Linked DNA regions of Homo sapiens: regions 1, 2, 3, 4 and 5 are each linked to region 6. The links come from fine-mapping of genetic effects on gene expression. A gene starts in region 6. Each other region holds a variant in brackets. All regions are shown on one strand. Distances are between the middles of the regions. Region 1 holds the start of SPTBN1-AS2 (SPTBN1 antisense RNA 2). Region 2 overlaps SPTBN1 (spectrin beta, non-erythrocytic 1). Region 3 overlaps SPTBN1 (spectrin beta, non-erythrocytic 1). Region 4 overlaps SPTBN1 (spectrin beta, non-erythrocytic 1). Region 5 holds the start of SPTBN1-AS1 (SPTBN1 antisense RNA 1). Region 6 holds the start of SPTBN1 (spectrin beta, non-erythrocytic 1).

The links.
Region 1: its variant is fine-mapped to the expression of SPTBN1 in whole blood (TOPMed, PIP above 0.99).
Region 2: its variant is fine-mapped to the expression of SPTBN1 in whole blood (INTERVAL, PIP above 0.99).
Region 3: its variant is fine-mapped to the expression of SPTBN1 in whole blood (INTERVAL, PIP above 0.99).
Region 4: its variant is fine-mapped to the expression of SPTBN1 in whole blood (TOPMed, PIP above 0.99).
Region 5: its variant is fine-mapped to the expression of SPTBN1 in whole blood (TOPMed, PIP above 0.99). The same link has a PIP of 0.9 or more in blood mononuclear cells, monocytes, neutrophils and non-classical monocytes.

The regions. Positions count from the first base shown.
Region 1 is chr2:54,675,997-54,681,070 of GRCh38, reverse strand. SPTBN1-AS2 (SPTBN1 antisense RNA 2) reads left to right here and starts at 1,026. Exons shown (of 3, transcript NR_186176.1): 1 at 1,026-1,247. All of the region lies in intron 1 of LOC105374653 (a long non-coding RNA gene), which reads right to left. The variant C/T (reference allele first, on the strand shown) is at 2,430.
Region 2 is chr2:54,666,894-54,671,967 of GRCh38, reverse strand. SPTBN1 (spectrin beta, non-erythrocytic 1) reads right to left here. Exons shown (of 36, transcript NM_003128.3): 35 at 4,322-4,364; 36 at 522-3,617. The coding sequence ends at 3,399. All of the region lies in intron 1 of SPTBN1-AS2 (SPTBN1 antisense RNA 2), which reads left to right. Among named protein-coding and RNA genes, the nearest start is that of SPTBN1-AS2, 11 kb to the left of the region's middle. The variant T/AT (reference allele first, on the strand shown) is at 2,728.
Region 3 is chr2:54,606,651-54,611,724 of GRCh38, reverse strand. The region is part of intron 3 of SPTBN1 (spectrin beta, non-erythrocytic 1); the gene reads right to left. Among named protein-coding and RNA genes, the nearest start is that of SPTBN1-AS1, 50 kb to the right of the region's middle. The variant C/A (reference allele first, on the strand shown) is at 2,522.
Region 4 is chr2:54,646,333-54,651,406 of GRCh38, reverse strand. It overlaps SPTBN1 (spectrin beta, non-erythrocytic 1), which reads right to left. Exons shown (of 36, transcript NM_003128.3): 23 at 4,932-5,074; 24 at 4,146-4,276; 25 at 2,217-2,421; 26 at 1,418-1,792. Among named protein-coding and RNA genes, the nearest start is that of SPTBN1-AS2, 31 kb to the left of the region's middle. The variant C/T (reference allele first, on the strand shown) is at 2,188.
Region 5 is chr2:54,557,785-54,562,858 of GRCh38, reverse strand. The region is part of intron 2 of SPTBN1 (spectrin beta, non-erythrocytic 1); the gene reads right to left. SPTBN1-AS1 (SPTBN1 antisense RNA 1) reads left to right here and starts at 4,154. Exons shown (of 4, transcript NR_185881.1): 1 at 4,154-5,074. RefSeq lists an enhancer at 2,446-2,615 and a silencer at 4,617-4,756. The variant G/C (reference allele first, on the strand shown) is at 2,404.
Region 6 is chr2:54,453,488-54,458,561 of GRCh38, reverse strand. It overlaps SPTBN1 (spectrin beta, non-erythrocytic 1), which reads right to left and starts at 2,235. Exons shown (of 36, transcript NM_003128.3): 1 at 2,044-2,235.

The DNA of each region.
Region 1 (5,074 bases), 220 kb before region 6:
AAGGGGCAGAACCTTCCTTCTGCAGAATATGAGGTCTTTTCCCAGCTGCACTTGCAGCAAGGGCACAGATCCATGGCCAGTATCTGTCAATTGTACACCTGCATGATTTTGAATTAGAGGCTGGTCATGTGCAGAGGGGAGCCTGGCAGAATCTGTTCTGTGAGGGCAGTGGCAGGGACAGCTGTCACTGCAGCAGCGTGTTGCTGTCAAAGACAGCAATTCCCACAGCAGGGTTTGCGCACAGTATGGTGTCATGGTGGGCACCTGGCAGTGTCAGAGTCCAGTGACGAGTTCCAGGAGCCTGCCCTAGGCTGGACTTTGGACATTTTTCCTGGCTGTATAAGCCCTAAGCCTGGTGCCCTTGTCCTCCTGGAGATTCTGGGAGCCTTAATAAGTTCCTTTTCTGCTAAATTAGCCAGAGTTGGTTTTTGTGGCTTGTGATTCAGAACCCTCAGTAAATCAGATATGAATGAACAATTCAATTCACTCAAAAAGAAAGTGGTGACACATCCCTGTAGTCCCAGCTCTCAGGAGGATCGATTGAGCCTGGGAGGTCGAGGCTGCAGTGAGCCGTGATCATGCCACTATACCCCAGGTTGGGTGACAGATAAGACCCCATCTCAACAAAAAGGAAAAAAAAAAGCAAGAAGAAAGAAGAAAAAGAAAGAAAGGAAGGAAGGAAGGAAGAAAGGAAGGAAGGAAAGAAAGAAAGAAAGAAAGAAAGAAAGAAAGAAAGAAAGAAAGAAAGAAAGAAAGAAAGAGAAAAAAGAAAGATGACAAAAACAGGAGAAAAAGTTGACCCTAGCTAGCAGTCAAAGAAACTCACAGCTTGAGGTGCCATATGATAGTTACTAAAAACAAAAACAATTGTTTCTGTAGCACAACAACGAGAACAGTTCCTCAGATAATGTCATTTCATTCAACTTTTTTTTTTTTTTTTTAATGATGAGAAAAAAATTGATTCTCTGCCAGGGCCACTGTCTGTGTGGTTTGCATGCTCTCCCCACGTCCACAGGGGTTTTGCTCTGGATGCTCTGGTTTTCTCCCACCCCTCAAAGAGGTGCATGTTCAGTTCACCGGCATGTCTACATGGTCCTGGTGTGAGTGTGGGGTGTGTGTGAGTGTGCCCTGCGATGTGACAGTGTCCTGTTCAGGGCTGGTTCTTACTTTAAGCCCTGAGCTGCTGGAATGAGCTACAGCAACCGGAGACTGGAGACTCCGGCAACCTAGAGAACTGTTATTATTGAGTAAGTTATCTTACTTGCTTTTATTTATCTTTCTTAAATGTATGTATAGCTCATATTTATTTCAGTGGTTAATATCAGAAGTGTTTTTTTTTTTTGAGACGGAGTCTCACTCTGTTGCCCAGGCTGGAGTGCAGTGGTGCAATCTTGGCTCACTGCAACCTCTGCCTCCCAGGTTCTAGTGTTTCTCCTGCTTCAGCCTCCTGAGTAGCTGGGACTACAGGCATGCGCCACCATGCCCGGCTAATTTTTGTATTTTTAGTAGAGACGGGGTTTCACCATGTTGGTCAGGCTGGTCTTGAACTCCTGACCTTATGATCCACTCGCCTCGGCCTCCCAAAGTGCTGGGATAACAGTCATGAGCCACCGCGCCCGGCCTTTGGTTTTTATTTAGAATTTTGATGTGTTTGTGACTAGAAATAAACCATAGGAATATTAATTTGCTTGTGGTAAAATTGGTGTTACTTACTTTCAGATTGCAAGAACATATTGACAACCTTAAGTGAGGACTGACTGTACCTTTGTTTATAGCTAGTAACTAAATGGATACACTGTTTGGAAAGTAATTTGGAAAGGAGTAATAGGAATATTTAGCAAAAATCTGTAAACGTGTCCTTAGCTTCTGACCTGGCAATTGCCAAGAAGCTTGGGAGGGTGTTTGGTAAGATAAAAATTATTTGTGTGCTTGTGTTTGAAAATTATTGATGTGGGCTTACAGTGTGTTAAACTAGGGGTGATAAAATTTGCATTAGGACCCCAGAAGCTTTTAGAGAGCAAAGAGATTAGAACCTATATTCAGTTTCCTGAAATGTAAAGTGACTGAAGCTGTCAGAGCGGCTGAGATCAAGGCTCTCTCTGAGGCTGGGCAGGAGAATGACTCCCCTGGGAGAACATTTCCACAAGGGGAAAGTGGTTAGTAGATGCGTACCCTGCACCAAGGCACGTGATTAAAGGGGAATATGGTCTGTGCAGTAGCCATACCAGGGGGCAGTTTATGCCCCCAGAAAACTGCTCTCAAAAAGAACCAAGAGCTGTAATTTTGGGAACACAAGCCTCTTTGGTGGAGAATGGTGTTATTGCTAAATGCTCAGCATCTGGGGAGCATTTTAATGCCTGATGCTGCATCAACTTGTGGAAAACTACCAATAGTCCTTGAAATAAGCATCACAAAGTCTTGTAGAAACA[C/T]AGCAAAATGTTTATGATGCATATGTAAGTAAAAATTGTATGCAGAATAGGTACTTGTGATGTTTAACTATGTAGGATTTGAGGCATGTGGGCCAGTGGGTTGTTAGAGTTAAAAAAAAAAGGAAGAATGCTTTTTTTTTTTTTGAGACAGAGTCTCTCTCTGTTGCCCAGGCAGGAGTACATGGGCATGATCTCAGCTCACTGCAACCTCCACCTCCCAAGTTCAAGTGATTCTCGTGCCTCAGCCACCCAAGTAGCTGGTATTACAGGCGTGCACCACCAGGCCTAGCTAATTTTTTTTTTAAGTAGAGATGGTGTTGTGCCATTTTGGCCAGGCTGGTCTTGAACTGCTGACCTCAAGTGGTCTGTCCGCCTTGGCCTCCCAAACTGTTGGGATTACAGGTGTGAGCTACCACACCTGGCCCAAGAATGCTTTTATCATACTGTCTTTCCTGTTCAAAATATTGCATCTCTTACCAACATGTTTCACTAAAAAAACATGAGGTCACCAAATGCCTATTTAAGGAACTGAATTTTTATTTTTAAAAATAAAGTCCCCCAAGTGATGCTACTCATCTGTTTCTTTGGGGAATCCCAGATGCCTGAGTTAATGGTCAGAACATCATTTGGCTGGGAAACAATCCATATAGGTGCAACTGTCCCTGGGTGCGTGGCCCCGTGATTGGGTGCAGCTCCCTCTCAGTCAGTTCTCACTGTCTTATCAAGACTCCATCTCTGAAATCTTGAAATGCATCTTGAAATGCAAGGATCCTTAATCCATTTATTCCTTTGACAAACAGAAAATGAGCCCTTCTGTCTGTTCACGCTTCCCCTCTTTCCTCTTCTGAGAAATGGAGGTCTAATTGCTGGCATGGGAAAGAGCCTTGTTTTAACCGTCAGCTCCGCCCTAGTGGATGGAAGACAGGGTTAGCATGCCCTGTTTTTCATACAGCACCTGGGCTTGTAAAATGGAACTAAAGAAGGAAATGATGACCAGGCATCCAGAAGTCAGCTCCTGTCTTTCTATGCTCTGCTAGAAAAGAGAGGTTGTGAGCTGAGGGACATCAGGAGAGCAGGAAGACCTGCAGGAAGAGCCGGCTGGGCACCCAAACATGGCTGTACCTCAGAAGATGCCTGTGCAGTTCAGAACTTGGAGGAGATGGGGCCGCAGGTGCTGAGGAGGCAGCAAGAGTCAGATGCAGTGACACAGGGGAGGTCAGACATCACAGGAAAGAGCAATGATGGAAGTCAGGGAACGAAGGGGCCCTGTGGCCAGTTCAGGGGGCTAGAGTGAAAATCTGACCTATCTCAGCTGCAGCCCATCAGTTCCTGTAGCTTGTCTTCACATCCTTTGGCTAGAAAGCAGATGAAAGAAAACCTGTCCACAGAGGCTGTGGGCTGAGCCTCTCCTCCCCACTTTTTAAACACCAGACACCGACATAGGCTTTATGCTGAGCTGTGATTTATCTTGCCAACCTTCTGAGGCTACAGAGTACCCAGCTGTTTGGAGGGTCCTTCTGCCCTACCTTTCCTCCTTCCTTACTTCTTTCCTTCCATCTTTTCTTCCTTCCAAATATTTATTGTGTCCCCACCACACACTCTTTATCTGAACTTAAATTTGATCCGAAAAGGACTTCAGCATGTATTGACAGTTGAAATCCAGGCAGCTACAGATTTGTAAGGCCAGTGAATCAGGCATCAGCTATCCTCTAATTACATTGCACATGTATTTGAGAGCAAAGCTTGCACTTGCATAGCTAAACTCTAGAGTCACATGGATGCTCAAGGAGTCAGTGAAGAGCTGTGGCTTCAAGAACCCAGCCTTGCATGGCTGTTGAGTGGACATGACACTGGGTATCCAGTCCTTTCTCTGAAAGCCCACGACTGGGGCAACAGCTTACACACATGAGATGCCCTCTCAGCTGGCACTGGTTCCATGACCATCATTCCTCAGCCCACAGAGAAGTGCAGGAAAAGAATCTAGGTGGGGGACAGTTAGTGTAGTCTGAGAGTGTGGCCTCTGGAGAGATGTGTCAGAATTCAAATATCCAGCTGCGATTTGTACAAGTACTTAACTCTTTAAGCCTCTGTTTTCTTCTTTGTACAATGAAGACATTGCCTGGTAGAATTGCTGCAAGGATTTGATGAGAACGCAACTTGAAAACTTAGCACACTGCCTGGACAACCTTATAGTTGGTTACCTATTAATATTAGCAAGATGAAATCATTCCATTTGGAGGAAAACAAATGGTGGAAACAAAACCAGTGGTTCAGAGTCCCATACCTAAATCACTGACTGATTTTTTTCAATCAGTTGTCCTGACAGGTTCAGATCCAGCGTGAGCTCCTGGCTTCTCTCCCTTTTCCTATGCAGTGTGTTCACACTCACACATCCACTTGTTACACAGCGCAGGATGCCACTGAGATCCTGAACACACACCTCCTTCTCAGCTCAAGATATCAAGGCAGCTGAATGGAGATGAGGCAGGGGGAAGGTCAGTCCTGGGGTCAGCCAGACCGTGTTAAAGCTTCAGAGCACTGTGGTCTTGGTTCTACCAGCTCTGGCTTAGCTCAGTCTTCTTTTCTCTGGGCTGACAGTTCAGGTTGTGGGTCTAACAACACCTCACTAATAAGTCTCTACCTCA
Region 2 (5,074 bases), 210 kb before region 6:
GCGTAAACAGCACTGTATTATTTCTTACAACTGCATGTCAGTATACAAGTATTGCAAAATAAAGAGTTAAAAAAAAAAAAAAACTGTTCTCAGTTATTGGTGGTGGTAGTATTAGTATTGCTATTCTGAGTTTTTATAACATGGAATAAAGCAAATGAATAATTTTAAACTATTCTAGTGGAAAATGAAATATTTCACCATGATCTTCAATAGACAGAAATCTCTATTGAGCTTTGATGGAAAGAAGTCTTTTTTCTTCTTTGTTAAAATATGTTTTTGTGTTATGGACCATGTTTAGAAAGGTCAATTCAAAATTATAAAACATATTCACCAAAAAACGAGGATTTCACCAGAAAACTCAAATATATTTAAGCCCATAAATTCATAATATTTAAAAAATTGTTCATCTTTAGAGGATAGGAACCAACTCATAAATAACGCTGATTATAGGAAAGTAATGCAAATAATGGGAAAGACTCCAGCATTGATCCTGCCTTTTCTACATGGACTGCACCACTACATGAAGGGAAGTATGTCTTTATTTAAGAATTCCGACTGATAAAACAATGTATCCAGGGGAACTAACATAGGATCCCCATACACAAGCAATTCTAACAGTTCCAGGAACTTGGTGAAATGACAATGTGCCCATCACCCAGTCTGATACAGTGTTTCACCTACTCAAGATGCCAGGAATTGTAAGAAGCACAGTCACTGGCACTCTCGGTACACCCAAAAAAACCACAGCCAGTTCCGGAAGTGCCATCAGAAGATGCATCCCAACTTGAGATGCTCAAGTAGGACAAAAAGTGGCCTTGATTCAAGTGACAACGCCATTTCATATCCTAAGCCTTATTTTCACTACTTCTTACTCTTCAGATTTATGGAGGGGCCAGTATTGTCACCCATATTGTATCACTGAAAATCAGGGTAAAATAGCACAGCATTATGGCAACAAGAAATATGCAAAATCCTCAAAAAACATGATAGTGGAAGAATAAAAAAAAAACAAAAAACCCAAAAACTATTTACCCTGCCAGGCTTGAAGCTCATCAGGCTGTGCGGCCTGTAACCTCTGATGGCGAACACGTCTTGACTGGGGTCTTCTGACGCTCCTCTCGCTGCCCATCATCTTCCACATTCAGGCCTCAGTGGATCCTTATCAAATGCACCAAGAGAGAGCAAATACCACCAAACCCTGGCTTCATAACTACAGATCTGCGAACTGTTGAAATTATGTGCACGATGTTCCACATGTACGTATTTATTATGGGACTCCAGGATTGCTGGTATGAACTTATTGCCATCTGCACAGCTTTGTCAAGAGTACAAGACTGTAATTAATCACAATTGTTTCCAAGATACTTTGCCTTAACTAAACATTTTGGTCTGTTGAGAATAGAACAACTTGATTCCAACCCTGAGCATGGCAAGGGCAAAGGACTGTCGTGGGAAGCAGGGGAGAGGATGGTGAGGTCTCAGTTTGCCTAGAGGTAAGAGAGTTAAGAGAAAGCTTTGATGCCACGCAGCTGTGGAGCCCAGGGCTGATGCCACCTTAGGCATGGTCTTTGTGGAATAACTTACTGGACATCCATAATACTAATATCCATTGCTGCTTTATGCAAGTGGCATGGAGTCAACATACCCAGATAACCCAGGAAAAGTATGTCACTTGTAAATAACCCACGACTCTATGCTGAAGTCAGCAAACTATGGCCCATGGGCCAAACCTAACCTCTTGCCTGTTTTTTTTTTTTCTTCTTTTTGGTCTGATCTGTATAAAATAGACTTTACATTTTGAAATCATTAAGAAAATCAAAATATTGTATGGCATGTCAAAGTTATATGAAATTCAAATTTATGTCCTTAAATAGTTTTACTGGAACACAGCCATGCCCAGGCATTCACATACCGTCAATGGCTGCCTTTGTATTACGCAACAGCAGAATTGAGCAACAGAGACAGTTACGGCCTACAAAGCCTAAAATATTTACTATCTCTGTCCCTTTACAGAACAAATTTGCCAACCCCTATCTCAGAGTTCAGGTTTCACAAGTGCTCTGGTAACTTTTTCATAAATAAAAGATAAAGCCTGAATGTATAACTACAAAACAGTCACATTTATTACTGTTTGCTGTAGTTTTCAAAGCTTGTGCACCAGACATGCATAAAAAATGCAAAAGTGAGCCCAGACTGGTTGTAAAATGTTTCTTGTTTGTCATTTCTCCCTTTGCAGTTTCCCTACTGGGCATGCACACGCAGCAGAGGAAGAACAACAACTAGTCACCGTGCTAGATTTAAAAGCATTTAATGACATAGCATATATTTAACAGATAGGGCAAAAGTTGAGAGGTACAGGTCGTACGACTGAGCACCAGGCCTGAGCGACCACCTCCCTGTTCAGGCCCAGCCTCTGGAGTTCATTCCTATCAATGTCATTTTGATTGTGCAGTAAGATGAAAATTTGTCATTACAATAGTTACAGTGACAGAGAAATGCACACTATGTATCAAATAGCAAGGAAATGAAGCAAATTATAACACAGTGTGGCAACGCACGAGCAAGTAACCATTAGAGTAACATTACTTTGTCCAGTAAATGCTTCAGTTCCACCACTTGTACACTTACCAATGATTTAAAGGGTTTATTATACATCTAGTTTTATTATACTTTGTACTAGAATTATCTCAAACGTACAATATAATGTATTTCAGCAAAAAAAAAAAA[T/AT]TGAAATTACAGATTATTTAAAACAGTATCAGTTTTCTATTCCTTCTTGTATACTGACATTCTTAACCGTCATAGCAGTTGATGCAGAAAAGCCGCATGTCGTGTGTTAGTAAGTGATGCCAGATACAAATGGTTTGGTCTGTAGAGTTAATGTGGAGCTGCACTGTGGCTGCAGCAAGATCATAATATGCGATCTGTTTAATAAAGGTTAGCCCCATCTCGGGCACTTCTAAGAGTCAAGAGTCAGGGTAACCACCAGAAGTAAATGGAGAGAGAATGGTGTCAGGATATTGGTACATTTTGCCTCTGGTGAGCACAGGAAATATTGATTAAGCACCGCTGCCTTGCATACCAACAGCACTAGAGGCGGGTTATTTCCAACACAGCCTCACAAAATTGAGGAACAGTTTAAATACTGAGATCTAATCTATATAATTTCATTAAAAAAAAAATCTGGCCTTCCCTCTGCACCTCAAACTTTTGTAACTTGGAGATAAAGTGTTTAGGTGTGTTTCCCCCACCCCCCCCGAAATGCTCTATAAATTAAAAAAAAAAAAAAATCAACCACATTGAGGAACATTAGGCACAGAGAGTAATGTGTTGGTTCTGAGCTTGCATGCTGGAATTTCACTGAAAAGGTAAGAGAAGGGCAGGAGGTGAAGGAAAGGAGTTCATTTCTTTTTGCCAAAAAGGCTGAACCGCTTCTCTTTGTCTTTCTCTTTGTCCTTTTCCCGCTTGCCGGGACTGGACTCGCTGGTGATGGTGACGACGCTGGTGGGGAGGGTCTGCGCGCGGCTGGATGCTGGCGTGCTCTGGGTGCTGGCAGACACCTCGTGTTTATCAGAGGAGATGGCGGAAGAGATAGCCTGGATCCATGTGTTCATTTCCTCCTGGACAGAGGAAGGGACACAGGTGAGACTCAACTAAGAGTAGGCATGAGGGGTTCTGGCTCCAAGGCTTGGGAATGGCGCATCTGGCCAACTGAGGGGTAAGCAGAGTCACTTCTGGGCACTGTCCCCAAATGCACCTCTGCCTTATCAGTACAGGAGAGGGAACCTGGTTCAGCTTCTCATGAGAATTCAGTTCTACTCATCACCCTAGTATGTGGCCCTACAAACTTGTAACAGCTGGAAGACCAGTCTCAATCTGTGAGGTGGTCAGATCCCACCCTAGAAGGTGCTTTTTCACATTTAAAGCATTACAGGTGTTGTTTTTCCATCAATGGACTCTCTCTTTCCTTGAGGTGAGGTACACACCCATTAAACAGCTGGCTGCTGGCGAAGGGTGCAGCGGGGGTCCCATCATGATCCACAACCAGTCCTGGGACCACCTCACTATGCCTCATCCCTGGGAGGGGACAGGCAAAGATTCCATCGACTTTAAGGGATCCTGCCTCGGCAAAGGGACAGTGAGATCATATTCACTGCCTTCTAGAGACAGAACCAAACACCTTCTAGTGCTGGTGACTGGAGCCCAGTGATAGAAACCATCACTGATCATCATTTACATGAAGAACTTTCTGAATAAAGCCCATCATCACACAAACACTTGCAAACTCCTAAGTAGTGGAGAGAAATAACATTTAGAAACTTACATCGTCTTTGGCTTGGAAGAGGTACTCATTGCCATCATTTAGTCTGTAATTTCAAGGAAGAAAGTTAGTCACCACTTAATTACAGAGAAATAAAAATCCCCCAACTCCCATATCCCATGCAGGACAGAAGTAGACCACAGGAGTCACAACAGAAGCGTCAACCTACATATGTCACCACCAAGCCTGGGGACCCGCCCAGGCCCAGCAACAGACCCCTGGAGATCAAGAAGCCATATAATCGCGCCAATGATACACACAGGGAGCCTGTGCTTCAATCCAATGGAAGGATTTTAAAAAGCCCCAAACATAACATTTGGGTTTATTGTGGCAAAAATCACTTGTGGATGCCTGATCACTTACTGGTCTAAACTGAGTTCAGGAGAAAGCTTTTGAACACAATGAGCCCTTTTGAAATTCTGCTACTGAGCTTGTATCCCCTACATTCACATGTTCCAGAGTTTCAGAATAGGCAAACAGAAAATGTCCTTCAACTTTTCTTCTACTGTATGTCTCAGAATTAAGAAGCCCTATTAGTGTGACACTGGGAGGTCCCCAGGCTTGGAAGGGTCACAGGTTCACTCTGTGGCTGCGGAGAGGACGAGGGTACTGTTGTGTAACACAGGGTAGGGGCCGTTCGCTAATATCCCAGCTCTCTGAAGCTGCATGAAGGGAGTACAAAGGGGAAAGCAGCCAAGGAGCCAGGCTGCCGGTGCATTGTCCTACAAAATGTAAAGTGTTCCAGGACCCAAAGAG
Region 3 (5,074 bases), 150 kb before region 6:
TGAAAACAGGGAACACAACCATCAAATCAGAAGAATTTCCAAGTGGTGGTTGTGTGTGGAGGGATGGGGTGAAGGTTAAGTAAAGAAGTATAACTTACTGAAAAGAAGGGGAAAAGGGAAAAAAATGAGTGTAGTGCAATTTAAATACCCCAAATGTTTCTTCCCTCTACCCAGTTTTATCAAAACGTAAAAGAGGCCCTTGGAAGGTGAACATTTTAAATAAAACAAACAAACAAAAAATATATATATAGAGAGAGAGTAGATAATGCATATGTGTATATATACATCTACTATAAAATATACTATTATAGAAGTATATATACGTCTCCTGTAAAAGCACACACACATCTACTATAAAAATATAGTAAATATACACAGTTGACCTTTAGTTGGGCCTGAACTATTCAAATGCACTTATACATGGATATTTTTCAATAAATAAACTGGAAAACTTTTTAGAGATTGGTGACAATTTGAAAAGATTCAGATGAATGGCCTAGCCTAGAAATACCAGAAAAATTAAGAAAAAGGTATGTCATGAATGCATAAAATATATATAGATGTTAGTCTATTTTATAATTTACTACCGCAAAATATATACAAATCTGTCATAAAATTAAAAATTATCAAAACTCATACACACAAACACAGATTGTAATGGCACCATTTGAGCAGTATTAAATCTTGGTATGTACTGTACTACTATAGTAATTTCAGAGCCATCTCTAACTCCTACTGTGATGAGCTCAAGTATTGTTGAGTGCCTACTTAAAATGCCTATGATGCTAATCATCTCCACGTGGTCTCTCTAGTAAATTGGGTATCACAGTAAAAAGCCATCTCTCACAGTTCTTGTGTATTTTTCACAGTGTCTAGTGCAATACTGTAAACCTTGACTAATATCATGAGACCCAAAGTGCCACTAGTGATGCTGGAAGTACTCCCAAGAAGCAGAGAGAAGTCATGACATTACAAGAAAAGGATGAACTGCTTGCTATGTATTGTAGATTGAGGTCTACAGTTGTGGTGGCCCACCATTTGAAGACTAAAAAAAGAAAAGGAAATTTGTGAAGCCATCCCTGAAGCTACACCAGCAGATGCAAAGACCTTGCACTTTTTTGTGAAATATCTTTTTATCTCATATTGAAAATGCAGCGTTTGGCTGGGTGCAGCAGCTCATGCCTGTAATCCCAGCACTTTGGGAGGCTGAGGCGGGCAGACTGCTTGTGCCCAGGAGTTTGAGACCAGCCTGGACAACATGGCAAAAACCCGTCTCTACAAAATAAATAAATAAATAATGAATTAATTAAAAATGCATCTTTTATGTGAGTGCAGGATTGCCATAAGAGAGGCATACCTAAGGACTAATATGATTTGAGAAAAAATGAAGTCATCATATGACAATTTAAAGGCATAGGAAGGTGAAGGATCTAAGGCTGGAGAATGTAACACCAGCAAAGGATGGCATGACTATTAATTTTTAATTGGGTAGCCCTCAGAACCAGGAAAGGTTCACAGAGCTCCCAGTCTGATAATTTCGGAAAGAGGTTTGGCTTAAAAAATGTCAAGGAATTGGGAGAAGCAGCTTTTGCTGACCAAGAGGCAGCAGATGAGTTCCCAGGCACCATTAAGAAAATCAATGAAGGAAAAGTGTATCTTGCCTCAACAAGTTTTTAATGCAGACGAAAGTGCCCTGTTCACAAAAGCCCAGTAAGAGAAAGAGAGGTGAGCACCAGGACTTAAGGCATAAAGGGATAGGCTAACTCTACTGTTCTGTGCAAATGCAGCTGGGTTTATAATCAGGACTGCCCTTATTCATAAGGCTGCTAACCTTTGAGCCTTGAAGGGAAAAAATAAATACCAGCTGCCAGTCTTCTGGTTGTACAAAAAGAAGGCCTGGACAATGACAACCGGTTTTCTGAATTGGTTCTACTGATGTTTTGGTTCCTGAAGTCTCAAAGTACCTTGCCAGTAAGAGGCTGCGTTTTAAAGTTCTTTTGGTATTGGATAATGCCCCCACCCAGAACCCCATGAGTTCAACACTGAAGGCACTGACATGGTCTACTGGCCCCTAAACACAACATCCCTAATTCAGCCTCTAGATCAAGGGGTCATAAGGACTTGTAACGCTCATTACTACACAAAACTCTATGGAAAGATTTGTTGATGCTATGGAATAGAATCCCCAACAGAGAGAACATCAGGAAAATCTGGGAGGACTACACCACTGAAGATGCCATCATTGTTACAGAAAAAGCTGTGAAAGCCATCGAGCCTGAAACAATACATTCCTGCTGAAGAAAATGATGTCCAGATGTTACACAGGACTTCACAGAATTTATGACAGAGCCAATGAAGGAAATTATGAAAGAGGTTGTGGATATGGCAAAAAGGTAGAGGGGTGAAGGTTTTCATGATACGGATCTTGGAGAAATTCAAGAGCTATCAGACACCACATCAGAAGAATTAACGGAAGACGACTTGATGAAAATGAGTGTCTCCAAAAAGATGACAAATGATG[C/A]GGAAGAGGATGTAAAAGCAGTACCAGAAAACAAATTGAATTTGTTCCAAGGGTTCCAATTATTCAAGACTGCTTGTGTTATTTCCATAAAGTTACACCAAGTGTCCCTGCCTCTTCTGCCTCCCCTTCTACCTCCTCCACTTCTACTACACCAAGATGGCAAGACCAATCCCCCCACCTTCCTCCTCAGCCTACTCAACGTGAAGACAAGGATGAAGACATTTATGATGATCCACTTCCACTTAATGAATCTGCAAATATATTTTCTCTTCCTTTTCTAACATTTTCTTTTCCCTAGCTTACTTTAAGACTACAGTAATGTAATACACATAACATGCAAAATATGTTAATTGACTGTTTATATTATTGATAAGACAACAGTAGGCTATTAAAAGTTTTGGGGGAATCAAATGCATAGGAAGATTTTCAGCGGCATGGGGTTGGTGCCCCTAAACCCCCTGCTTTGTTCAAGGATCCACTGTGTGTGTGCATGCGCGCACTCGTGCGCGCATGCACACACACGCACACAAAATGGGTTTCTATTATCTGTTGTACCAACACCAAGCTCATGCCCTCGCCCATCTGGCTCCATCCTTCTCTCCTTCCTATTTCCCATCACTCCCCCTCTAGTAGAGGCTGCACCTGGAGCTGATGTCACCATCTCATAAAGATGCCAGGAGGATGCACACATCCACATGTAGAAGAACGCACTCAGCCTGTGACCCATCATCTTGACTTCCCAATCTCTTCACCTCATCACACCTACCTACCTTCCAAGGCTCAGGCCAAGGCCCATCTTTCCTTCCCGGAGACATTCCCATTTCCAATCATTCTGGTTCTCACAGCTCTTCTTTTCCTCACAACTCTACAACTAACAGGCTGGACCACAGAGCCCAGGAACTCATCATTATAATTTTGCTGTTGTTTCATTTATTGCTCTTATTACTTCCAACTAGACTGTTCGCTTCCTAAGAGCAAGGATGAGGCTTTATACTTCTATATTCTCAGGGGTTTTTGGTCCAGTTCTGAGCACAGAGTTATGTGCACAGTGAACTGAATGCCAGCAGACAGACTGGGCTTGGTGTGTGCTGAGCGGACCTCACAGGGGAAAGGGGGCCAGGCTGCAGCAACCCAGGTACACGCAATTAAGGGCAGCAGCCAGCCCTACCTTAGTATCTTGTCCATTCCCTGCTCTTCCCCTGGGTAGTTAAGATCCTCAGCTATGTGCTGTACGGAAAACGTCTGAAAGGAAGGTTACTTGGGTAACAAGCGGCCATTTTAAGTCTGTCCAGTCTCAGATTATTATTTTTCACTTTCTTTTCTCCTATAAAAAAGGACAAGTAAAAACAGAAGAATGTGGTTGACCTTGAGGAAATAAGATTATGTGCAGAGGCCTACCACAAGTAGAAAAATTTTATTTTCAAATATATTTGTCCCTTGGTATCCACAGGGGATTGATTCCAGGACCCCCAATGATACCAAAATCCATAAATGCTCAAGTCGCTTATATAAAACGGCACAGTATTTGATATAACCTATGCACATCCTCCCATCTACTTTAAAAATTAATTTATTAATTTTTTTTTTGAGACAGAGTCTCGCTCTGTCGCCCAGGCTGGAGTGCAATGGCACGATCTCACCGCAATCTCTGCCTCCTGGGTTCAAGAGATTCTCCTGCCTCAGCCTCCCAAGTAGCGGGGTTATAGGCACCAGTCACCACGCCTGGCTAATTTTTGTATTTTTAGTAGAGATGGCGTTTCACCATGTTGGCCAAGCTGGTCTTGAACTCCTGATCTCAAATGATCCATCCACCTTGGCCTCCCAAAGTGCTGGGATTACAGGCGTGAGCCAGCCCCCCGGCCTCCCATATATTTTAAATCATGGCTATATTATTTGTAACTAATACAATATAAATGGTATGTAAATAGTTGTTATACTGTATTTTTAAAAAATTGTATCACTGTTTATTTCTGTATTGTTATTTTTCATTGTTCTTCCCCTTGAATATTTTCTACCTGCAGTCAGTTAAATCTGCAGATGCAGAACCAGACCATAATAGCAATGGAAAAAGAAATGTCTTTAAACATTAAGCTTTTCACATTAATGTGATATCCTCCTTACCCCAAAAAAAGAAAGAGGTGGATTTTGCCTTTAGAAACTTCAAAATGATTTTAATTCGGTTATGTGGGAAATGCTAGAATTTGCTATTTGTGCAATGCCAGGTTGCATCAAAATCAAGCAATCTAACGAGGTAGGAAAAAATAGATATAAAATACGGGTGGGCTTAATCTAAAATTCTGTAACTCTGATTCTGCAAGTGCTGTTTGAGGTAACACTGGTGCTCTCTCTCCACGGTACACCCGTCAGCCTCCTAAAGCTGGCCCAGACACCATTACGCTCCTATCCGAGAAAGGGATGCCTGTGTAATCGGTGCCGCCCTAGAAGAGGTGGGTGGAGCAGCTCTCCCCGCCAGCAGTCACAGAACTGCATATGGCTCTCATGTGTGCTCTTTAAGTTTTTCCTTTTGTCTCCTGGATCAGCTATCATTTCTCA
Region 4 (5,074 bases), 190 kb before region 6:
GGACACACATCCTTTTCACTGCTATAACATCATAGCCCAGTGGGTATGGTGAGGTGCAGACTATCAGACTCGAGGGACGAGATTCCCACCCTGGATGTTCCGAGACCCTTCTTTGGCTTCCTCATCTCTAAGTCTAATGAGGTGAAGGGATTTAATGAAAAAATGAGAGAGCAACTCCACTGTCTCTCAAGTGTCTTGCAGTTCTAAAAGTAAATGATTTTAGAGGTGCAGAGGAAAGACCTATGTTGTCAAGGTGTTTTCTAATTCTATCTCTAGATATCCCATGTTTCCCTAAACTTTTGTTATATAATAATAATTAGAAAACATTTCTAGAGATCTCACTATGTCATATGTTTTGCACCTCAATCCTTAAACTATTAGGGAACCAAAGCTTAGAGAGGTAAATTAAACTTGCCATCATAGTGACAGGAATTAAGAATTAAGGGGAAGTGAGAGAGAACAACTATCAAGGTGGTCCCTTCATAGAACAAATCCCAAAGTATACCAAAGCTATTTAGAGGCTGAGGCACTAGACTGGGTCAGCCCAAGGCCATATCTGGGTGGCCTGTTTCTGTAAATAAAGATTTATTGGAACACAGCTACGCTCATTCATCTTCTCACTGTCTATGGCTGCTTTATTCTACAATGACAGAGGGCAGAGCTGCAACAGAGTATGTATCTCATAAAGCGAAAAACACTATTTGGCCTTTAACAGAAAAAGCTGAGATAACTTAGATACTCAATATACTCTTAACAACAAGAACCCTTGACATAATCAGGGATAACATCTTTAATAAAATTGGCTTCTTCTCTAGGGCCATGAAACTTAGAAGAAAAAAAATACAATTTGTTTTTCAACTAAAAGGCATAAGACTAAACAAGAAACTGTGCAGAGATCAGAAAGGAAACTAGAGAGTGATTACACTAGATTCTGTTATATTGTTACTACTTTGTCAAACATCTTTTAAACAAAGTCTTAGTGCCAGTCATTTCATACTGGGGACGAGGCATGATAAAATGTCAGAATCCTGTTTTTTTCTTTTTCCAGACATACAACTTAGAACCTGGTTGATGAAAAATAGTAAAATATTATTTTGGAAATTGTTCTGGATGGATATGCTAACATAATAAAAACACTTGCTGAGGCCTATAACTTGCAAACATCTGTGTATGCATCTGGTTTATTTATTTTAATCATGGGGGCACTCATCTAATGTTCACAAATGTGGCAAACGTAGACCTTTATGGACTGATAAGTTCTCCCAAATGGAGCACTATTACAAAGTGGGTACATGTATGTGCTTAATTGGGGCAATTCTTTTGAAGAGCCAAGGAACAGGGAGATACTTACAGATGCCCAAAGATGTTCTATGGAGAAAAAGCCTCCCCAGCACCCCTGGGTGGCTGCCATACCCACCTGTGTGCCCAGAGCCTGGATGTCATGCTCAAATGTAGTGTGCATTCTCTGTAAGGTCTCCACTGTGTTCTGATCTCTCCCAAGCTCCTCAGGGAGTTTCTTGTGTTTGTCCTGTATACGCCCAAAGATCTCCTTGGCATCGTGGTAAAACTTGTGCAGTTCATAGGAAGCGGCAAGAATCTGTGTTCTTGTGTCAATGAGCTCCAGGAGGTCGGCCCAGGCTTCATTGAGGCCATCCTTCCATTCAGCGATGGTGGCGGCATCTGAATGTCCAGAGTTGATGAGCTCATCTGCCAGGTGATTGACCGTGTCCACGCGCTCCTGCCCAATGTTCCCGGTGTCTCGGGCAAACTCCCGGAATCGTTCTTGTAACATCTGAAACGGGGATGGGTAAGGAAATCAGAGAGCCCACTGTGAACTCTGTATTTCTTGATCACATGAATACCCTTTGGAAAGAAACTGCCTCTAAGCAAGATGTAGCCAATAATACTCATGACTTCAGAACAATAGATCTTAGCTCGAGAACCTCTTAGCAACTGGGTTTCCTTTCTTGCTCACTGCAGCAGAGTGAGGCACTACCTCCACCTCCTTTTACTACCGGAGGAAGGGGTGCACAGAGAGGTTAGCCAACCTAAATGCGAGTCACCAGCTTATAAAAGAAACACCACCTTAAAACTAAACCCCAAGACCTCTGATTGGAGTCCAGGGCATTTTATCTGCTCACAGACAAGGAATGCAAATGGCCTTCCACACCATCGCTTACTGCACAA[C/T]CAACTCATGCACTGCCTCAAGTACTTGCCGTGACATGCTCATAGTCCTGTCCCAGTTCATGGGACCCTGCGACCACCTCCCTCTCAGCGATCCACTGCTCCAGGTCGTCCACCTCCCGGTTGAGCTGGAATAACCTGTGTCTCTCATCCAGCTTGCCTCTTCTCTCTTCAGCAAGGTCTTTCAGACCAGCGTACAGTTTATCCACTTTGGACTGCCGCATGCTAATGCGCTCACTGAAAAAGAAAAGGAGCAATGGGGAGAAAAAGGATCTTAAATGTCAAGTTTCTTCAGGGGAAAAACAAATGAGGTGGAGATAATGGGAGAGCATATTACATCATATTTCTCAAAGGAAACTCTGGTTAACCCACTTAGCATGAAAAATAAAATTCTGAAATTGGCCACAATTTGAAGTCGTGAAGAGCCAATATGTAAACAAAAGAGCCAATATGTAAACTACATTCACCTATCCCTACTATTACACTAGGGATGGGTAGTGCCTCATTCTGCTGCAGTGAATAGTGGGGGCAGGAGAATTTAGCGGGGAAAGGGGAAAATTCTCTCTGCACCTCTGGCTCTGCAAATCAGGATTTCCTTTGATGTTAAAAGTTAATGCAAAATCTTCCCAGTCAGGAAGGTGACAAAAGAGAAAATAAGTTAATGCAAAATCCAGAGTGGTCTTGCATTCTCTGGTACCATGCTGCCAGAGGGACAAATGACACAGCCAGTGTGGCACGCAAGGCCCTCTACCTTCTCTGGGCAGAGTGCCCATCCTTGTTAGGAGGGCTGGACCGGCTGCTCCATCTCATGATTCCCAGGTGCGCAGTCAGGAGACTGAATCCCCCTCCCTCCAACTTCTCCCCAGAGTGATGGTCTACAAACCAGAATATCAGAGACAAAGGACATGTTGGTGCCTATCCCTGGAGACTAGGAAGGCCACTTTCCTGGGAATCCTGATCATGAACATCTTAAGAACCTCCTACACCAACAGAGCCACTGACCTCATCTCCCCTAACCTGCCCTGGTTAAATGCACAAGGCCAATTCCTTTCCAAGTCATAAAAGGCATTTACACAAAAATCCTAAAATGACTGCTTTGGAAGTTAATACAGGGGCCTGATGAGTACCACACACTCACCTCTTCTTTTTCCTCGAAGGTGTTCTAATCACTTGATATCGAAGAGTTAGGAGGTGTTATCACTTTGTTCTTCCTGGGAGCCCCTTCATTTTACAGGTCTATGCATTCTTGTCTAATGCTCCTCTTAAAACTAGTAATTACTTTACTAAACTGGATGACTTTTTCAACCCAAGTGTAAGTGCTATGACTATCTGTATCCACCATGCAAGTCAACCTGTACTTCTGATCATTTTTATTTTTTTGAGACAAGGTCTCACTCTGTCACCCAGGCTGGAGTGCAGCAGTGTGAACATGGTTCACTGTAGACTCAAACTCCTGGACTCAAACCATCCTCCCAACCTCAGCCTCTTGAATAGCTGAGTAGTACAGACGTGTGCCACCACACCCAGCTGATTTTTTGTATTTTTTGTAGAGATGAGGTTTCGCCACATTGCCGAGATTGGTCTTTGGCCCCCTGGGCTCAAGCAATCCTCCCACCTTGGCTTGGTAAAGTGCTGGGATTACAAGTGTAAGCCACTTTACGTTGACTGCCCAGCCTAGTCAACCTGTACTTTTGACTCACGACACCAATATTCTTTCAGGAGAGCCTTGGCCAACGGGAGATATTTAACCCACAAGAGCAATTTCCTAATATAACAGTTCACCCATCCTAATCATGATAGGATGTTTTAAATGATGGGTCTGTTTTAAAAATGCTTCTCAAAGATTTGCCTTACCAGCAAGTCATGATGAATGCTGACATTTTCTTTTGGTGGGGGTTAGCAAGAGACCCTAACTGAGAGGAATCGAGAGCCGGGTCTCACACTCATGAAGCAGCGCTCACCTTTCAGGATGGCTGTCGGCCACCAGGGCCCGGCTGGTCTTGGAGAGCTGATGCACGGTCTCTGCATAGTCCTCCACAGCTTGTTCTAAGATCTGGTGCTTCTTCAACATGGAGACAGCACTCTGCTCATCCTGCAAAGACAGGAGAACATCACAACCATAGCGGTCCCCTCTGGCCCTACCCCTTAAGGAGTGACAGACCAGCTGCTCAGCAGGGTAGGAGGAAGGATCAGTAGAAAGAAAAACTCCAGAGGTGCAGTACGGACAGTGGAACACAGAAGTGTTCCAAGAGCTTCCATATGGACTGGACCACAGAAGCCTGTGCAGAAGATAAACACAAGGAGAACGCAGAATGAGCAGGGCCCCTCTCAGAGAAAAGCTTGGGCAGACCAAGTGTGCCTGGTTCGCTGGAATTCCTCAAGGTCCCTCAAGTATGTAAATGGCAGCATTCCTGGAACCTTGCAATACTTTCAAATTGTCTCCAAGCCATCCTGTATTTTGTAAAGTTTAGGGAACCTATAAATAGACAGCAGGAAGGACTCTGGCATATTTCAAAGATGAAAGGATGAACCTGTTCTTAATGGCACACTAGGATTCAGATAAGAAAATGCTGCACCAAAGGGAAACCAGCAGCTGGATTTCAGACACCTTCATGCACATGGTGTCCCCTTAACACTCAAAGGCTACAAGGGAAGTTTTTATACAGACAGAGCCGCCAGCAGAAAGTGTGCCCAGGGTTTGAATCTGAGGCTCTCCTGGGACAGGGATGCTTCCCGCCTCCTCTCACCTTGGCCTTCTCCTCTGACATCATGTACAGCTCCTGCTCGCTCATCCAGGCTTCGGCCTCAGCAGCGTCAAAGTAGTACTGCTGGGCCCTGTGCGCCTCCTCCAGCCGCCTGTGGCGTTTCTCTGTCTCCTCAATGAGGAGAC
Region 5 (5,074 bases), 100 kb before region 6:
AGGCCGGGTGCAGTGGCTCACACCTGTGATCCCAGCATTTTGGGAGGCCGAGGCAGACCAATCACTTGAGCTCATGAGTTCAAGACCAGTTTGGGCAACATGGTGAAACCCTGTCTCTACAAAACACACACACACACACACACACACACACACACACACACAAAGCAGGGTTTGGTGGCAAGTGCCTGTAGTCCCAGCTACTGGGGAGACTGAGGTGGGAGAATCACTTGAGCCTGGGAGGCAGAGGTTGCAGTGAGCCAAGATCATCACACCACTGCACTCCAGCCTGAGCAACAGAAGCAGACCTTGCCTCAAAAAAAAAAAAGAAAAAGAAAAGAAAAGTAAGCATTTCTATAGATGAAATGGAAGAGTAGGCATTTGAGGCAAAATGTAGAAGATAAGCGTGAAACCCAGGGATGGGTTTTATAAAAAGCTGTAGGCCTGCCTACCAGATTTGAATGGAATATATTAGAATAAGAAGTAAGTGGAGTGGGGCCATTTTACGGAGAATCTTTGAAGGCCAAGCTAGACTCTGGAACTTCATTTACACAATGGCACAAGCAACTGTTTCTGAGGGGGAAAGTGGCATGATGAGTGTTCTCTCATGAGGAGTTAAGCTGGCTGATGTGAAGTGGAGAGATGGTTATCATGAACCTGCACCTCTGTTACTACACAGTTCTCTAAATATGGGAGGTTGGGTTTTGCTGTATTTCAACATTCCTCTTTTATTTAACAGAGAAAAAAACATCAAATACAACTTTATACGATACATGAACTGATTCTGAGGAAAGTGATAACTTAATTTTGCAGGTGAAAATCTGAAAAAGAAAAAGAGGAAGGGGTGGGTGTGTGTGTGTTGGGTGTTGGGTGTTGGTGGTGAATGCTACAGCCATCAGAGGTTGAAGGGCTTGTCTTCTTATGCCAGGAGGCTTCGTGTGATAAAGCCATCACTCTTGTATCTCAATGAGGTTTTTTTTTTAATCACACTTATTTACTGACCCACAAATCTCTACAAACTATAAATCTCTACAAACCATAAATCTCTATAAACTATATATTTATGACTATCCTTATTTTTATTTTAAACTATATATAACTATATTTATATATAAATATATAACTCGATTTATATTTATATATAACTATATTTAAACTATAAATTTATAATATCTCTATAAATTTATAAACTATAAATCGCTATAAACCATTTTATCTAAATAGACCAGACTCATTTTAAAATTATATTCTCCTTAGCCAGAACTCCAAATCTCATTCTATGGCACACCTCCTGAAATTTTTAGGACCCAGTGTGGAAAGTAACTTGAAACCAGCCAAAATGCAGAAACAACTCCAGAAAAATCATAGCACTATCAGGCACAGACAATACATAAATAAGTTCATATCAGAGGCATTAAACCCAGTACAGGACTGGCAAGGTAGCTCACATCTGTGATCCCAACACTTTGGGAAGTGAAGGCGGGAGGATCATTTGAGGCCAGGAGTTCAACACCAGCCTGAGCAACATGGTGAGACTCTGTCTCTACAAAAAATTTAAAAATTAGCCAGACATGGTATAGTCCCAGCTACTTGGGAGGCTGAGGTGGGAGGATGGCTTGAGCCAGGACTTCAAGGCTGCTGTTGAGTCGTGATTGTGCCACTGCACTAGAGCCTGGGCAACAGCGTGAGACTCTGTCTCTTAAAACGAAAACAAAAAACCCAATACAGTTTCAGAGGAGCATTTTGCCAATATTCAGAGATTATGTGCTAGGAAAGATTATACTCAGAAGAGTAAAAAAAGGCACCCTTGCAGGAATGTACAAAATTAAATCAGCAGATAGAAATTATATGTTATCAAAAATATGTGATAATCAGAACTACAAATACCAAACAAAACACAAAACCAGGGATGGGAATTAAAGAAAGGTTTTGTGTGTGTGTGTTTAATCAAAATTCTCCTAGGATTGTTTAAAATGCAATCGGTTCATTTGTTCTGAAGGATGCTGACAAATGTGTGTAATTCTCCTGAGGTCCACCATACTTGAAAGTTAATTCACCCTTTCTCAATTCCTCAACATGGGTGGTTTTCTGCTACAGAAATACCAACACTAAACTTGTGCAACTCCTAAACCACAATATTTAAAAATAAGAAAGTCACTGGGGCTAAATTAGGAGACAAGGGTCACACTAAAAAAAATTATTTTTAAAGCTACCACACAAAACACGAAGCTTACCCCTTTCGAAGGGATTTCCTTGAGAAACAGCGTATGAGGTAAAATATCAGGGGCACATGATTTTTTTTAAATTTAAACTTTACGTTGTCCAGAGAGGACAGTTAAGACATTTCCTGTGTGTAGGCTCCACCCTTCTCGGCGAGCAGTTTTAAAACCTTCCTCAGCCCTTTCG[G/C]AATAACAGCCTTTTGTTATGGGTGGGCCTAGGGGTGCACTCCTCCCTCACACCTTCTATTTTCTCCCAGTTTTGCTTTTTTTCTGAGACTTCCAGGCTAGGCTGGCGGTGGAGTGGGCTGACGATCCCGGTGGGTGCTTTCCCCCAGGCGGGATGACACAATGAAGCTGGGAGTCCGGGCCAGGGGAAGAGGAGGAGCACGCAGTGGATTCTCCGACCCGAAAACCGTGAGGCCCCTAACAAACCTAGATAATGAACGCCCCCCCCCACCCCAACTCCTCTATTTACTACTTGCAAGCGCCCCCAGCTTAAGTTTTCAAAAAAGCAAATTTGACTGCCGAAGAGCTCAAGAGAAATGAACCAAAGAGACACAGAACCGTTCCCCAGAGCGAAGGGAGCTTCCTCTGAGCTAACTGCCAGAGGAATGTGGCACAGCCCAGCAAATGTTTAAAATCACGTCCTGTTCTGCCTCGTTTTCCAGAGAAGTGTCATTACTGTCAACTATTTCACAAGACAAATAAACCAATGAATGAAAGACATCCTCCCCCCTCTTCCCAATGAAAAACATTCTAGGGCTGAGCGGCTTCCTTCCTTCCTCCTCCTCACAGGAACCACATTTGCAGCACTGAGGAGGTTAAAATAAGAAACACACAGTCCTCGAATACTACTTTTTTACAGTGCTAGAGCCATTCCCAGCCTACTACTGACTCCAGGGGCTTCCAAACGGAAGGAGTTCTGTTTTCAGTTAGGAACCTTTTTTCATGTATAAGCTCTGAGACACTGCTGGCCAGGGCCTGCTGGCTGGGCAGGGACAGCTGAGGGGTGCAGGGGCCGCAGGGAAAACAGCACACTGGTGCACACACAGGCTTCTGCTCTCCCTAAAAATATGTTCAGTAAAATATTGGACTCATTCAATTGTCTGAGCCTTAAAAAGACTCCAAGAAACCTGTAATTGATCCAACTAATCCAACCCATAGGGTTGAAATGACAATAACCGGCTTTCATTAGAAATTATATAGCCCACTAAATAGATGGGAAGGCTCTTCCCAACACATCAGAAAAATTAAAATTAAGCTTCTGAATAAAAAACTGTAATTTACCAAAGGCTTAGGAACAAAAAGACCCCTCCCTCCTCCCCTTTGCTATTGTTCTACAGGACTGGGTCTGAGCACGGCACTTTACACCTTTAAAGCTTCCCAGAGGTAAGAGGCTGGGGGCTGGGAGCCAGAGGCGACCCGGAATCAAATACCTGCATACTAATAAGTCTATGAGCACTGATCTACTAGGAGGTAAAGTTAGCTAAAAGTAAAGAAAATGTGTGTGCAGCAGTTATCTGACAACCTAGAAAGCCAAAAAGGTGCTGGAGAGACAGGGACTCCAAATGGTAGCTCTTCTGGAGTGGAGTATGAGCAACTGCCTTCCCTAAGTCGTGAATGGGGTGCCCGCAGCCAACCACAGGGTCTGGGGCCGAGCTGTGAAGCCGCCCGTCTTCATTAGGGTCACAAATAAAGCCTCCAAGAACCCCCGTTGGCACCCAGGACAGGCCCGGCCTTTGGGAGGGGGCTTACCTTGCAGCTGCTTGAATCTGCCTTCCAGCTGGTTGTAGTTGTAAGGCACCTGCCCCGTGTACGCCGGCGACAGCGGCCCGGAGATACTAGACGTCCTCTGCAATTCCATTATGCCCGGCGTAACGCCCCGGAGGACTGCGCCCTGGAAATCTCGCTCCAGCCCCCTCCCACTCCCATCCAACACGCAGCAGCCTCCGCAGCGCTCGGCTCCTTAGGCGAGCCCCATTCCGGTCTGCAAGTCCAGCAGGGTGATCTGATGGGAAGTTGGCTGCAAGAGAGTCCACCTTAGCTCCGCGAGGAGTTACCACACAGGCATCTAATTTCTTGCTTTCCCTTCTTCCGTGGCCCTTGCCTGGAAGCTCGAAATAAATTACTGAGGAGGAGGGAGAAGCAGAGAGGAGGCGCAGGTTCTACTTCAGAACTTTTAAATATGGCCAATCCTAAGCATGCCACGGTTGCCGAGCCCGGGAGCTCGCGGGCGCAGCGCGCACACCTCCTCCCAGCTGCCCGCGGCGGCCGCCGGTTTGTAATTTTATCAGGAGCCACTCGCCGTGTGCTGGGCGGTGATGTCACCTGATTAGCATAACAGCATTGTATTAGAAATGCAGGCTATACCACGAGGAGGGGCGCGGGGGAGCCTAGCCGGCCCGCGACCCCCTACCGGTCCCGCACGGTCCGCGGTCGCCCCAGCCGCCCGGCAGCCGCCGACCCCCGGCCGGGCCCTGGACTCGCCGCGGTAGTGCCTTCCCAAACAGAGCTGCTGGAATTACAATCTTTTGTTGAGCCTCATGTAACGGAAAAGTCTCCGATTACTATCACTTGAAAAGGCTAGCGCGCCCACGGGACGGCCTGGAGAGTGAAGAGCCCCAAGGGTCCCGGGCCCGCGCGGCTCATTCACTCTCTAGCGTCTGCTGAGGTAACGCGGCCCGCACCTGGGCGCGCGCGACTGCCCCAGTGCGCTGGCGCCAACCACGCGGCGGCGGCCCGGCGAGCCACCGGGAAGAAGTCAGACAAAGTCACTCTCAGGGCGCTGTGCAGCGCCACAGCCAGGGGAGGTGTAAGTTCGGGCTCAGTGAAGAATCTCGGCTGACTTACGCTGCCAT
Region 6 (5,074 bases):
AAATATGTATACAAAAAATACATATAAACAAACACAAACGCAGTGTTACTGTCATAATCCCATTAATTACGCCCGGACACTTAACTTGGCTACCTCAATCAATAGAAATCTGAATACCAATTTAGCCCCCATCATGACACTCATACACCTAATAATCCTTAATAAAGCATCCAAATAATGCAACTGTACTTGACTTAGAAAAAGCAAACGATGAAAACAAAATACAAGCTAAAGGAATCATTTACTATCCATTAAAAAACATATAAATTCCTTTTAAAACAACCTACTGAATTTTAATATACTTATAAATGTCTTAGTGACATAAAACCCAAAATGCATTAATCATTTCATTTAAAAATGGTTTCCTACAGAAAAAATGCATACTTGGTATTAACCAAAGACAGACGAGGTACTGTAATGTCACAGTTGTGAAGGTCCAATTAATAAACACCAACTTTTCACGTAGAAAAAATTAATGCATAGCTGGGTTGTGGTTACAGATTATGGACGATCCACAGAAAAACGCTGCGACTCCCCACACTGCAACATTGCCTCCGCACACCACTGGGCCCAGTCCTTCCTGCAGCCCCTCCCTATGGCTCAGGTCCCCTGGTCGCAGATCAGATTCCGATCCGCAACCACAGGCCGGCTCCCCTCTGCCTGCACTGGTGATGCAGGGCGCCCCTCCGGCAGAGCGCAGCCCAAGAAGAGGTGCAGGAGGGATCATCCCAAAAGAAAAGACTCTCCCCTGCTCACACCTAGCTGACCTGGTCCTCCTGACGCCACATCCAGCAGAAGCTGCAGGACAAGGTAGCAGCAGCTCCAGGCCTCGGCCAAGGGCAGCCCCGGGCCTGGGTGGGGCCGGGCGGGGGCCGCAGGCGCCGAGCGGCCGTGCCAAGCCCCGCCAGCGAGAACCAAGGAAGCTGCGATACTGCTGCATTGTGCTGCATCACGGCGAGGGCACCGTGAGCCATCCATCTTGCCAAAAAAGCACATCCCCGCCCAAATAAACCCCACCGAATTCAATTTTCTGCTCCGCCGAAGCACCCCCACACGCACCCTGTCCTCACTTACTATCTGGCCTGGCTTTCGATTGGAAAAATAATGGACAGAGGTTTGCGTTCTGATCCCCACCCCCTCCTCATCTGATGGCAGCAGTTGGCACCTTTCCTATCACAAAAACAAAGAGAAGGCGCCCCCTAAAAGAGGGCCGTGGGCGTGGTGTGGGGGGTGATGACGAGCCAGCCCACCTACCCAAAGCAGGCCCGGAGGGTCCCTGCGCTGAGACAAACCTGTTGAAGAGAGGGTGGCAGGAGCTGAAGGGCGGGCGCAGCGGCGGCTCGGCGCCCGGAGGCGGCTCACGCCCAGCCCTGGGAGAGTGGGGACGGCAGAAAGGGCGGGGGGGGGGCGGGCGCACGAGGGTAGCAAGCGCAGGGATGGGGCGGAGGTGGGGGCGCGGGGCCGCCGCCTCCGGCTCAGCTGCAGCGCGGCGCAGCCGGGACCACGCCTGGCCGCATCCCCTGCACCGCTACGCGCAGAGCCCGGCCCTGTCACCGCCGCCCCCGCTCCCCACCCGCGGGGCCACAGAGAGGGCACCTGAAAATAGACCCTCCGGCTGTCCGCTGTCCGCTCCGCACCCACCTCCGCGCCAGGGGCCTCCGCGTCAGGGGCCGCCGCGCCCGGCTGCAGGGAGGCGCCGGCGGAGGCAGGGAGGAGGAATCGCCGCGCCGCGCCGGGGCTGGGGCCGGACGGCAGCGGTGCGCACGGCGGGTCTGCTGCCGCCTCACCGCAGAGCCTGCCGCCCCTCGTCCCGCATCATCCGAGTACCAATGAGCACCCGCGACCCGGGCTCCCCGCGCCGCCCCCGCCCGGGCTTTGCAGCCTCCCTGCCCCCACGCGGCTCCCCGGGCGCAGGGCAGGCGGGCAGCGGCGTCCTCCGGCCCTGGGCCCGCGCCCCTCCTCCCGCCCGTCCGCCGCCGCGGAGCCCACCCGGGAGGCAGCCCCAGTGAGTTGGCATCTCCCTGCCTCGGGCCCCCTACCTACCTCCCGGGGATGGGGTGGGGGCGCCGGGGTCCCGTCCTCCTCCCGCTCCTCGGCGGCCGGGCGGGTGGGCCGGGAGGCGACTCCGCGGGTCTGTCCGCGGCTGGGGCCGGGGCTCACAGGACGGGACCAGTGGGCGCTGCTGCGCAGGGCTGCGCGCTCGCTCCGGGAGGAGAGGCGGCCGAGGGAGGGACTGGAGGAATCCGCAGCCTGCACGGCAACAGCGGCACTGATTCCGGGGGCTGGGCGGGAGCGCGGGGGGCGGGGGGAGGAGGAGAGGAGGGCGCTCGCAGGGAGGGGGCGAGGGGCGGGGAGAGGAGCGCGCGGGGCGGGCGCGCGCGCACACACACACAAGCGCACTCCCGGGATCCCTCCCGCACGCCCTCCGCCCTCCGCACTCCTCCCTCCCCACTCCCGCCCGCTCCCTCTGCTTCGCCCGCCCTCTCCTCCTGCCCGGAGCCCCGCAGCCGCCCAGGGAGCCGAGCCTCGGGCGCGTCCACGTCCTCTCCAGCTGAGGCTCTTCCCGGGTCCAGCCCGGACCTCATCCTCCCAGCGGCGGGGACCGACCAGGCTGGCCGGGGCGGGGTGGGCACTGCTGCTGCCGCTACCCGAGCAGGACAATAGGGGCTTTGTCTCCACAGCCGGAGAGGGCCAATTTCACGTTTAATTTGAGGCTAATTCGATTATCGCCATGGAAAGAGGCGGTCTAATTTTCTACGTGATTTGTGCAGCCTCTTTTCGCCCTTGATGTTGCGTTCGGAATGCTGGGGAGAGAGGGTATTTAGGGAGGTTTTGGAGCGTCACTTGCTTGGTTGGTTTGAGATGCAGTTGGTGATGCCTTATAGGTTCTACCCAACTTGGAGAAGGGCGACGGCGACCTCTTCGTGGGAAACCTTGGGCGCTGGAGGATGGGTGGTGGGGGTCGTTCCTTGTGAGGTTAATGTATTCTTTTGCAAATGCTTTTTCGCCCACCCTTTCGCTTTGGGTAGCTGGGAGCAGACCCTACAAGTGGTTCATCCAACTCCTGCCTCTCAGTGCAGGCTCCGCTCGAACCTGAGGCCAGGTGCCCTGCCCCAGTCACTCCCGAGAGAGGGGTCGTCCGGCCGCGGTGGAGGGCCCCGTGATGGCGTGGGGACTTGCGTTTTCCCCTATGCGCATTCCCTGAAACGGAAACTGGACGTTTCCTCAAATTTTTGTCATGTGCCACTGCCCCTTCCCAGTCACCTGGTCTACCCCGTCAGCCCCTCAGGCTGTGTAGAAATTCCAGAACCGTCACTGTTGTGAAGAAAAGATGGTGGAATCACCAGGACCACGAATGGAAACGCTCTTTAGAAAAGCAGTTTGAAGAAACTGACTTTCTCCTTGTTCTGTAAAGTGCACAGGGCGGCACTGCGGGCATTCAGAGGGAGGAGGGCCCTTCCTGTTTGAAAAAGCCCCAGGGCTTTTTCCCCATACAGACCTGATCACCTGGATTAAAATAAAACAAAAATACACGGCAGCCAAGTAGTTTGTATCATGCTTATATCTCAGATCACTAGAACCTGGCCTGATGGGTTTATATGTTTGTATGTATTTTTAAATGAATATTTTAAAATAAAACTCAGTGAAATCGTCACAGCAAACTGAAGATGATTCTTCCTTTTAGGCCTTCATAGGTTTGAATGTTTGAACCTATGTTTACTTTTGATAGGAAAAAAATTGAGGAAAGCAAATAACATTTTTTCTCAGAAGGTGAATCAACACAACCAGACCGTAAACTCTCTTAAAGGTAGGGTTATTTCTTTCTTCACTCTGTACATATAGCAGGCACTTAGGTACTAAAACAAATTTGTTGAATTGAACACAATCAACTTGTAAGCTGCTGCCCTCATTAGGTAATAAGGGAAATCCACTAGAAAGCAAAGTTGTTTGCCTTTCACTTACTTATTTTTTTACCATGGACCCCAGCACCTCCCCACTCACAATGTTAATGAAATACCAAAGAAAACAGTAACAATATTGGGAAGTGCATCCATTTAAATTAATTCTTCCAGTGTTATTCTGAAATGGTTATTCCTTTATCACAGACAACGGTATTTAAATAAATTTTCATTTGATGAATGATTCACCTCCCTTACCCCATTCCACTCCCACTTACGTTGTTTTTTAATTAAAAAAAAAAAAAAGGCCACACACACCTTAGCAAGGTACTCTAGTAAAGCCCCAGTAATTATTCCAAAAATGTGAAAGACAAGGATTCAGAGTTCTACTGTAAATACCTGCATCACAATTTTGAATTCTTACCCTTAGGTGCAAAAAATCACCCTAGAGAACTCAGTGTACCAACGACCAAAAAGAAGTAACAATTCAAAGAAAAGATAGTACAACTGGAAAGATTATTGGAGAAGACATTTTTATGGAAGGCAAAATCTAAAAAAGATAAAAAGTCTTAGGCAGTGATAACAGCTCAGAAGGATTATTCCCATGTATCTCAGAAGCGGCTTAGTTTCTTCTCATATTAGAATCAGGGTTGATATAAAGGAACCTAGAAGTCTTCAATATCATGTTTGTAACATACTACTCTCCACTTTTAAAACCATGTGATTGCATATGGCTTTATCTCCCATCAAAATACTTTATTACAAAATTTTTACAGATATAAATTGTCATTTTAACTTTCCATTCAGAATGTAGGGGAAGGCTGGGCACGGTGGCTCATGCCTGTAATCCCAGCACTTTGAGAGGCTGAAGTGGGTGGATCACCTGAGGTCAGGAGTTCAAGACCAGCCTGGCCAACATGGCGAAACCCCGTCTCTACTAAAAATACAAAAATTAGCCGGGCATGGTGAGACACGCCTATAGTCCCAGGTACTCTGGAGGCTGGGGCAGGAGAATCACTTGAACCTGGAAGGCGGAGGTTGCAGTGAGCCGAGATCGCACCACTGCATTCCAGCCTGGGTGACAGAGCGAGACTCTGTCTCAAAAAATAAAATAAAATAAAATAAAATAAAAAGGTATTGATAAACAGTATTGTCTACTACAACCTGTTTTGTTT